Regions from separate parts of the Homo sapiens genome. Here regions 1 and 2 are each linked to region 3. Evidence: fine-mapped expression QTL. A gene starts in region 3. Each other region holds a variant in brackets. All regions are shown on one strand. Distances are from middle to middle.

Evidence for each region. PIP is the estimated chance that this variant, and not a neighbour inherited with it, causes the effect.
Region 1: its variant is the best candidate, but not a certain one, in a credible set for the expression of KCNIP2 in skeletal muscle (FUSION, PIP 0.65).
Region 2: its variant is the best candidate, but not a certain one, in a credible set for the expression of KCNIP2 in whole blood (INTERVAL, PIP 0.57).

Annotation. Positions count from the first base shown.
Region 1 is chr10:100,931,186-100,933,948 of GRCh38, forward strand. The region is part of intron 9 of SLF2 (SMC5/6 complex localization factor 2); the gene reads left to right. Among named protein-coding and RNA genes, the nearest start is that of SLF2, 20 kb to the left of the region's middle. The variant T/TGTGTGC (reference allele first, on the strand shown) is at 1,535.
Region 2 is chr10:101,862,810-101,865,572 of GRCh38, forward strand. The region is part of intron 24 of ARMH3 (armadillo like helical domain containing 3); the gene reads right to left. All of the region lies in intron 2 of LOC101927445 (a long non-coding RNA gene), which reads left to right. Among named protein-coding and RNA genes, the nearest start is that of KCNIP2, 20 kb to the left of the region's middle. The variant A/C (reference allele first, on the strand shown) is at 1,267.
Region 3 is chr10:101,842,310-101,845,072 of GRCh38, forward strand. It overlaps KCNIP2 (potassium voltage-gated channel interacting protein 2), which reads right to left and starts at 1,491. Exons shown (of 10, transcript NM_173191.3): 1 at 1,187-1,491. The coding sequence starts at 1,259. RefSeq lists an enhancer at 1,003-1,508 and a silencer at 1,464-1,713.

The DNA.
Region 1 (2,763 bases), 910 kb before region 3:
CACATCCATGATGTCAGTGGCTTAGAATGTAGCAAAAAGAGTCAATATAAAGAGATTATGAAGAAAGGGATAATGTAGATAGTTGTACAGGACAGTCAGTGTTAGTTGTGCCTGAACCCTTCACCACAGTGATAAATCACTATTATAGTTAGTTTTAGAAGGGATCTTCTAATGCTTACATACCTAAATTTCTTTTTAACCTTTTTTCATGTTTATGGTGGTACCTATATACATTTTCAGAATTTTAATTGTATGCTAATATTTCCCCATTCGTATATATGGTTTTTTTTTTGGATGCAAATCCAACCAAGTGTTTCTTTTCCCCATTCATATTTAACGCTTAAATCCACTTAAATAATTATCTTAAATTTAAGATATGATAATTCCAGAAAGTTAACTCAATTGGTAACTTTTTAAATATCAGTGGTATCATTGATGCTTATGTATGGAGTTCTGGTGTTACTCTAGATACTTCGGACCTTCATGCAGATAAATGTAGAAGTTTCTTACTCTTGACATTTGTATCAGCCAGGAGTGGTGGCTCATGCCTGCAATCCCAGCACTTTGGGAGGCCGAGGCAGGTGGATCATGAGGTCAGGAGCTGGAGATCAGCCTAGCCAACATGGTGAAACCCTGTCTCTACTAAAAATACAAAAATTAGCCAGGTGTGGTGGTGGGCACTTGTAATCCCAGCTACTCAGGAGGCTGAGGCTGGAGAATTGCTTGAACCCAGGAGGTGGAGTTTACAGTGAGCCAAGATTGCTCCATTGTACTGCAGCCTGGGGGACAGAGTGAGACTCTGTCTCAAAAAAAAAAAAGACATTTATATGGGAGGGCATGGATGGGGCTTTTTCCAGTATAAAAGCTTCTGTATCAACAAGTACTATAGTAACTACTCAGTTAGATTGGAATTATGCTTCTTTCAAAGACGAGAACGATTATGAATGACAAGTTATTCTTCGCAGTGGCTCATGCCTGTAATTCTAGCACTTTGGGATACCAAGGCAGGAGGATTACTTGAGACCAGGAGTTTGAGATCAGCCTGGGCAACATAGCAAGACCACATCTGTTTAAAAAAAAAAAAATTATTCTCAGGTTACTGAGTGTTCCACTTTAATAAAATCCTAAATGTGTGAAAAATATACATTCAGGAAAAAGGAATCGTAGTATAAAAGAGTCCTTTATAATATGTGAGTATTGGCCCCAGAAATCCTATAACAAAAAGGAAAAAAGTATCAATGGTGTCAGAGAACTACAGCTATTATATATAAAGTGAAAAGTGGGAAAAACATGGAGTTTCTACTCTGGGTTTTATGATAGCATTTCAAGAAATCTCGTATTTGGTGAGAACTGGAGAGATATTCCAGTACAGACTTTCGTTCATTGTTTTATATAGTTGGCATTTTGAGTGCCAGCTGTGCCAGGCACTGGAGAGAACAGCAATGAAAAAATCAGTGTCTCTGATCTCATGAAGCCCACATGCTAATGTAGAGGAGACAAACAATAAGTGTGTGTGTGTGTGTGTGTGTGTGTG[T/TGTGTGC]GCGCGCGCGCGCGCGCGCACATTTGTAAATGTATTGTGTCAGATGATAAGTGCTATGAAGAAAACGTAGGGTAAGGTAGATACAGAGAGTACCGGGGTGAGAGAGAAAGTTTGCTTTTTTAAAGTGTAAAGTAGTTGAAGGTCTTGCGGTTAAGGTAAGATCCAAGTAAAGGAGTAGCTTGTCAATGTCACTCCTAAAGTGTTCCCTCACTGCCTCCACTAAAGATACGTGGACACATGCTCCAGATAAGGTCTGTCTTACCAGCAGTTTTCAGTGAGACTCTTGCCCATCTGAAGAAACCTACAAATTTCTACTTATTATAGTTCAAAACTAATCATGCCACTGTACTCCAGCCTGGGGAACAGAGAAAGACCCCATATCAAAAAAACAAACAAAAAATTTCCTTTACTGTTATGCCAGGGCTTCATTATTCTCTAATTGTGTATATCATTTCTTAAACCTCCAAGTAAGACTTTGCATTTATCTATGTTAATTTGCCTCTTGTTGATGTGGGCCCATTGTTATAGCCATTCAAACCCTAATTATGACATACAAGCATACCTTCATTTAAGCAGTTTTTTAATACATTTCATATTTATTTTCTGAAAACCAGACTAATCATTCATTAAACACTTTCCCTGTGTAAGACACTGTCTCATTTCTCCTTTTTTGATTCCAAGTCCGTTTTCATCGTGGGAGGCTTTACCAACTTGTAAGTAGTTTTTAGAAATTATGTCAATTCATTTTAATGCTATACTCCTAACCAGTATTTTGTAAGTTTAATGTTAAAATGTAATTAAAATCCTTGCATTTTTGTGATTTTATCATGAGTGTCTAAATGTAGTAGACCAGAAAAAGGTTAGTACTTTTTTTTTTTAACAATTTTCAAAAGGAATTCAGGTTTGATTATGAAAAGTTCAAGTAAAATGGAAAGGAGATTAAAATTTATTTATTTATTTGTTTGTTTGTTTATTTTTGAGAGAGAGTCTCACTTGGTCACCCAGGCTGGAGTGCAGTGGCGTGATCTCTGCTCACTACAACCTCCGCCTCCTAGGTTCAAGCAATTCTCCTGCTCAGCCTCTCAAGTAGCTGGGATTACAGGCCTGTGCCACCACACCTGGCTAATTTTTCTATTTTTAGTAGAGATGGGGTTTTACCATGTTGGTCAGGCTGGCCTCGAACTCCTGGCCTTAAGTGATCCACCCACCTCGGCCTCCCAAAGTTCTGG
Region 2 (2,763 bases), 20 kb after region 3:
GTTATATTCATAAATAAGTTCAATGTAATACTCCAATTAAAAGGCAGGGACTTTCAGATTGGACATAAAATCAAGAGCCAATTATACAAGTTGCCCAAAATAAATCCACTTAAGCCAGGCGCGGTGGCTCATGCCTGTAATCCCAGCACTTTGGGAGGCAGAGGCGGGTGGATCACCTGAGGTCGGGAGTTCGAGACCAGCCTGACCAAGATGGAGAAACCCTGTCTCTACTAAAATTACAAAATTAGCCTGGCATGGTGGCGCATGCCTGTAATCCCAGCTACTCGGGAGGCTGAGGCAGGAGAATAGCTTGAATCCGGGAGGCGGAGGTTGCGGTGAGCCAAGATCACGCCACTGCACTCCAGCCTGGGCAACAAGAATCTACCTAAAATATAAAGACACAGATTGAAAGTAAAATGATAGAAGAAAGTTGAATTGCTATATTAATATCTGACAAAGGAAACTTAAAAACAAGAAATAGTATCAGGAATATAGAGCAAAATTTTGTAATGATAAAGAGGTCTATTCATTATGAAGACGTAACAAACCCATACATACATGCATCTAAAAACAGTTTCAAAACTTTGAATGAAACAAAATCGATAGGCTAAAGAAGAAACAGAAAAACATATAGTTACAAGTTGAAGGTTTCCATACTACTTTCAGTAACTAATAGAACAAATAGGTAACCCTAAACAATATGGGTTTGAACTGTGTGGGTCCACTTATATGCAAATTTAAAAATATACATATATATTAGAAAGGTTTTTGAAGATTTGGAACAATTTGAAAAATCTCGCAAATTGTGTATCTTAGAAATTTTGAAAAAATTGGTTGTGCATGGTAGCTCGTGCCTGTAAATCCCAGCACTTTGGAAGGCCGAGGTGAGAGGATCGCTTGAGCCCAGGTGTTCAAGACCAGCCTGGGCAACATAGTGAGACTCCATCTCTTAAAAAATAAAATAAAATTAAGGCCAGGCACAGCGGCTCACACCTGTAATCCCAGCACTTTGGGCTGCCAAAGAGGTTGTATCACAAGGTCAAGAGTTCGAGACTGGCCTGGCCAATATGGTGAAACCCTGTCTCTACTAAAAATACAAAAATTAGCTGGGTGTGGTGACACTTGCCTGTAGTCCCAGCTGCCCAGGAGGCTGAGGCAGGAGAATCACTTGAACCCAGTAGGCAGAGGCTGCAGTGAGACAAGATAGTGCCACTACACTCCAGCCTGGGCAACAGAGCAAGACTCCATCTCAAAAAAAAAAAAAAA[A/C]AAACACACACACACACACACACACACACACAAAAACCAGACAATTCTCAAAAGAAGACACATGAAAAAATGCTCATCATCAGTGGCCATCAGAGAAATGCAAATCAAAACCACAATGAGATACCATCTCATACCAGTTAGAATGGCGATCATTAAAAAGTCAGGAAACAGGTGCTGGAGAGGATGTGGAGAAACAGGAACACTTTTACACTGTTGGTGGAACTGTAAACTAGTTCAACCATTGTGGAAGACAGTGTGGCGATTCCCTAAGGATCTAGAACAAGAAATACCATTTGACCCAGCCATCCCATTACTGGGTATATACCCAAAGGATTATAAATCATGCTACTATAAAGACACATGCACACGTATGTTTATTGCGGCATTATTCACAATAGCAAAGATTTGGAACCAACCCAAATATCCATCAATGATAGACTGGATTAAGAAAATGTGGCACATATACACTATGGAATCCTATGCAGCCATAAAAAAGGATGAGTTCATGTCCTTCGTAGGGACATGGATGAAGCTGGAAACCATAATTCTGAGCAAACTGTCTCAAGGACAGAAAACCAAACACCGCATGTTCTCACTCATAGGTGGGAATTGAACAATGAGAACACTTGGACACAGGTTGGGGAACATCACACACTGGGGTCTGTTGCAGGCTGGGGAGAGGGGGAAGGGATAGCATTAGGAGAAATACCTAATGTAAATGACGAGTTAATGGGTGCAGCACACCACATGGCACATGTATACATATGTAACAAACCTGCACATTGTGCACATGTACCCTAGAACTTAAATTTAAAAAAATCAGGACTTTACAAACTCTCAATTAAAAGCCCTGACGCAGCTCAAAAAAAAAAATTTTTTTTTAATTATATTAAAGCTTTGGGAGGCCGAGGCGGGCAGATCACAAGGTCAGAAGATCGAGACCATCATGGCTAACATGGTGAAACCCCGTCTCTACTAAAAATACAAAAAATTAGCCAGGCATGGTGGTGGGCGCCTGTAATCCCAGCTACTCGAGAGACTGAGGCAGGAGAATGGCATGAACCCGGGAGGCAGAGCTTGCAGTGAGCTGAGATTGCGCCACTGCACTCCAGCCTGGGCGACAGTGTGAGACTATGTCTCAAAAAAAAAAAACAAAAACAAACAAACAAACAAAAAGAGTAAGAAAACATTAAATATGTAATGAACACGTAAGATATACATAGAGAGTATTTTATCATTTACTACCATAAAATATACACAAGTCTATTATAAAAAGTTAAAATTTACAAAACTCATGCACACAAACACCACACATGGCACCATTTGCAGCTGAGAGAAATGTAAGCAAACGTAAAGAGGCAGTATTAAATTATAACTGTATAAAATTAACTGTAGTACCTACTGTACTACCGTAATTTTTTTTTCTTTTTTGAGACAGAGTCTCACTCTGTTGCCCAGGGTAGAGGGTAGTGGCATGATCTTGGCTCACTGCAGCCT
Region 3 (2,763 bases):
AGGAACATGCACATGCACAGATGTACTGGCCTCACATACCTCCCCATGTGGGAAAGAGAGGATGCCCGGGCAGCCAAGTGGTTTGGTGGACATGCAGGACACCACATGGCACTTCCCAGGCCTAGAGCTTCTAGCTCTGTCTCTGGAGGGGAAGGAAGAGGATGTGTTTTCCTGGGGTTTGAGTGAAGTTCTGAAAGGTTTGTTGGGGGTTGAAGGATTCAGTTGTAAGAATAATCTCAGTACATGATTTGGTGTGGGGAGAGAGGGCTGACCCAGCACTAACTAAAGCCTCCCTACAGGGGCCAGGTGCTGGAGCCATAAGGTCTCTTGGAAACCAGACTGGGCAGCTGAACACTAAAGTCCCTCCTTGGGTCCACCTGGGCTATTTGTGGAAAAATTGGTGAAGGAGTGGGGTGTACTAAAGACCCCTATCTGTACCAGGAAGCCAGAGAGGCAGCAGGGATGAGACACGTCATAGACACTCACAGAGCCCCGCTGCAGACATCACCACATGAAAGTACACAACTAGCACTGAACACTAATCTCACAACCACAAAACACAACACAACCTACTTTAACAAATTCTTGCCCAGAGGGCTTATGGTCATGAAGGCTTACAAAGAGACAAGCCACCCTAAAGTAGAGCCCTGACACATTCTGGTAGTTACACACCACTTCATACAGAATTACACACTCACAACACATCGTTGCACATAGAGACACATGGTCAAAACAACTTCATCAGTACAACCAGGGTCCTACGCAAACTCAAACATCTGACGAGACCATACAATTGCACTGCCACATACAATCACACTCACCCTAGCTGTCACCAAGCCCAGGGCACATGGCAACCAGCTGTGGGAGGTGCGCGCGCACACACACACACACACACAGAATGACAGGTGCTCACGCACGTAACACCTCCCACTCCAGACACCCTCTCAGCCCTGTGTCACATACGCCCACACCTGCTGCCTCTCCACACCTGCCTCTTCTGTTCCTCCCCAACCCCTGCGGGACCCAAGGCTTTGAACCCCCAGTGTCCTGCCGCCCAGACCGGCCATAAGAGTGCCTGGGAATGGGGCAGAGTGTGGGTGCGGGCCAGGCCGGGGTCGGAGAGGCGGAAGGGTCTGGAGGAATGGAATCCACCCTCCCTCCCGCGACCCCCACGTCACTGACTCACCCGTGAGCTGGTCGTAGGAGCCGTCCAGGTCTCGGGAATCGGACAAACTCTCCTTGCGGCCCTGGCCCCGCATGGCCCCCGGCGCCCCGCTCCCGCCCGGGCCGTGGGAGGGGGCGCCGGGTGGCCGGGATAGGGCGCTCACACGGCGCCCCCTGGCGGCCTACTGTGCTGTCGGGGCTGGGGAAGTCCGGGCTGAGGCTGAGTCTGGGAATGGGCCCGGGGTCTGAGGTCTACCCGGAGGTCCTGGAGCAGGAGAGGGAACACTAGGCAGCAGGTGAGCGCAGAGCCGGAGGCAGAGCGGAGCTGAGCGCGGAGCCGAGCCGAGCTGCCTCTCTCCTCCCGCCCCCTCCCCGCGGCTGTCACCGCCTCCTCCCCTCTTTGGCGCTGCCGGGATTGGCTCCCCCTACCCCCGCCCCCCACCCTTTGCAGCCCGGGGGAGGCACCCGGTGAAAGGGTGAACTGCAAAGTGCGGGGAAGGAGACTAGCTCCCCAGCAATCTGCCCCTAAAGCAGAAGTCACGGGGCTTGGCGGGGGGGGGGGGTGGGGGAGGAGGAGAGCGCGGGACAGAAGAGCCCCACTGAGAGGAGGAAACCCCGCCCCCAATTCTCAGGCACCCCGTCCCCCTTCGTCAACACAGTTCTGGCTGAGGCAGAGCCTGGGGTATCATATCTGAGTCCCCGCTCCGTTTGTCTCCATGTCAGCCTGTATTTTCTCTGTTGTTCCTCCTCCCGTGTATGCGTCTCTCGTGGTCCCAGACAGTCCCCACCGTGCTTAAAGCAGGTTAGGGATGCAAAGGAAGAGTCAACCCAGCCTCTAATATTAGCAGGCTCATCGTGGGCCAATGGACTACTGTTTCATCTTCTCTCAAGTTCCAGAAGGACCCCAACTCTCACCCACTCCAGGACCCCGTCTCTGGAACCTATTCACTCTCAGGGTGCCTCCTTCACTGATCTAATGAACCCCATAGGCCGACTAGGAAGATAAAAAAACTAGTGAACCAGGTCAGTTTCTCAAGACATCCTTGCTCTTTTGTTCCTCCCCTGCAGCAACTTTTCTGCCCTTCTCTTTTGTCACCTGTCCTGTCCTAGATTCCTTGTTTTCCAGCAGATATGGGGAGCAACTGACAGGTTTGGGGATCCAAGTCAGGATACAGAGTAGGAAAGAAATGCCCTTGTTATGAAACCCCTTCCTTAAGATTAGCTCCTTTCCAAAGGCAGGGCTAGCACGGAAGCTGGGCTGCCTCATCTCCCAGGAATGGATCCTGAGTGTTTTGAGCGTCACAGGTCTGACCTTCCTCAGGATGCTTCCTGGGCTCCACACCCAAAAGCCCCCCAACCCGTTGCTATGAGGATGAGGGGACCTTGTCTGGTGGGTCCAAAGGAGTGACCTGTTAAGACCAAAAACTTTAAAGTGACTCAAGCACACTTAATCTCTTCAATTGGCTTTAATTTCCAACCACTTGATTTAATCAACCCAGCAGGAATTGTGGCGGGAGTTCAGGCCTAAGAGGGGGACAAGTGGCTGAGGGTAAGATTGTCTTTAGGAGCAATGCCCTGCGCTTGGATCTCCCTTGGCTC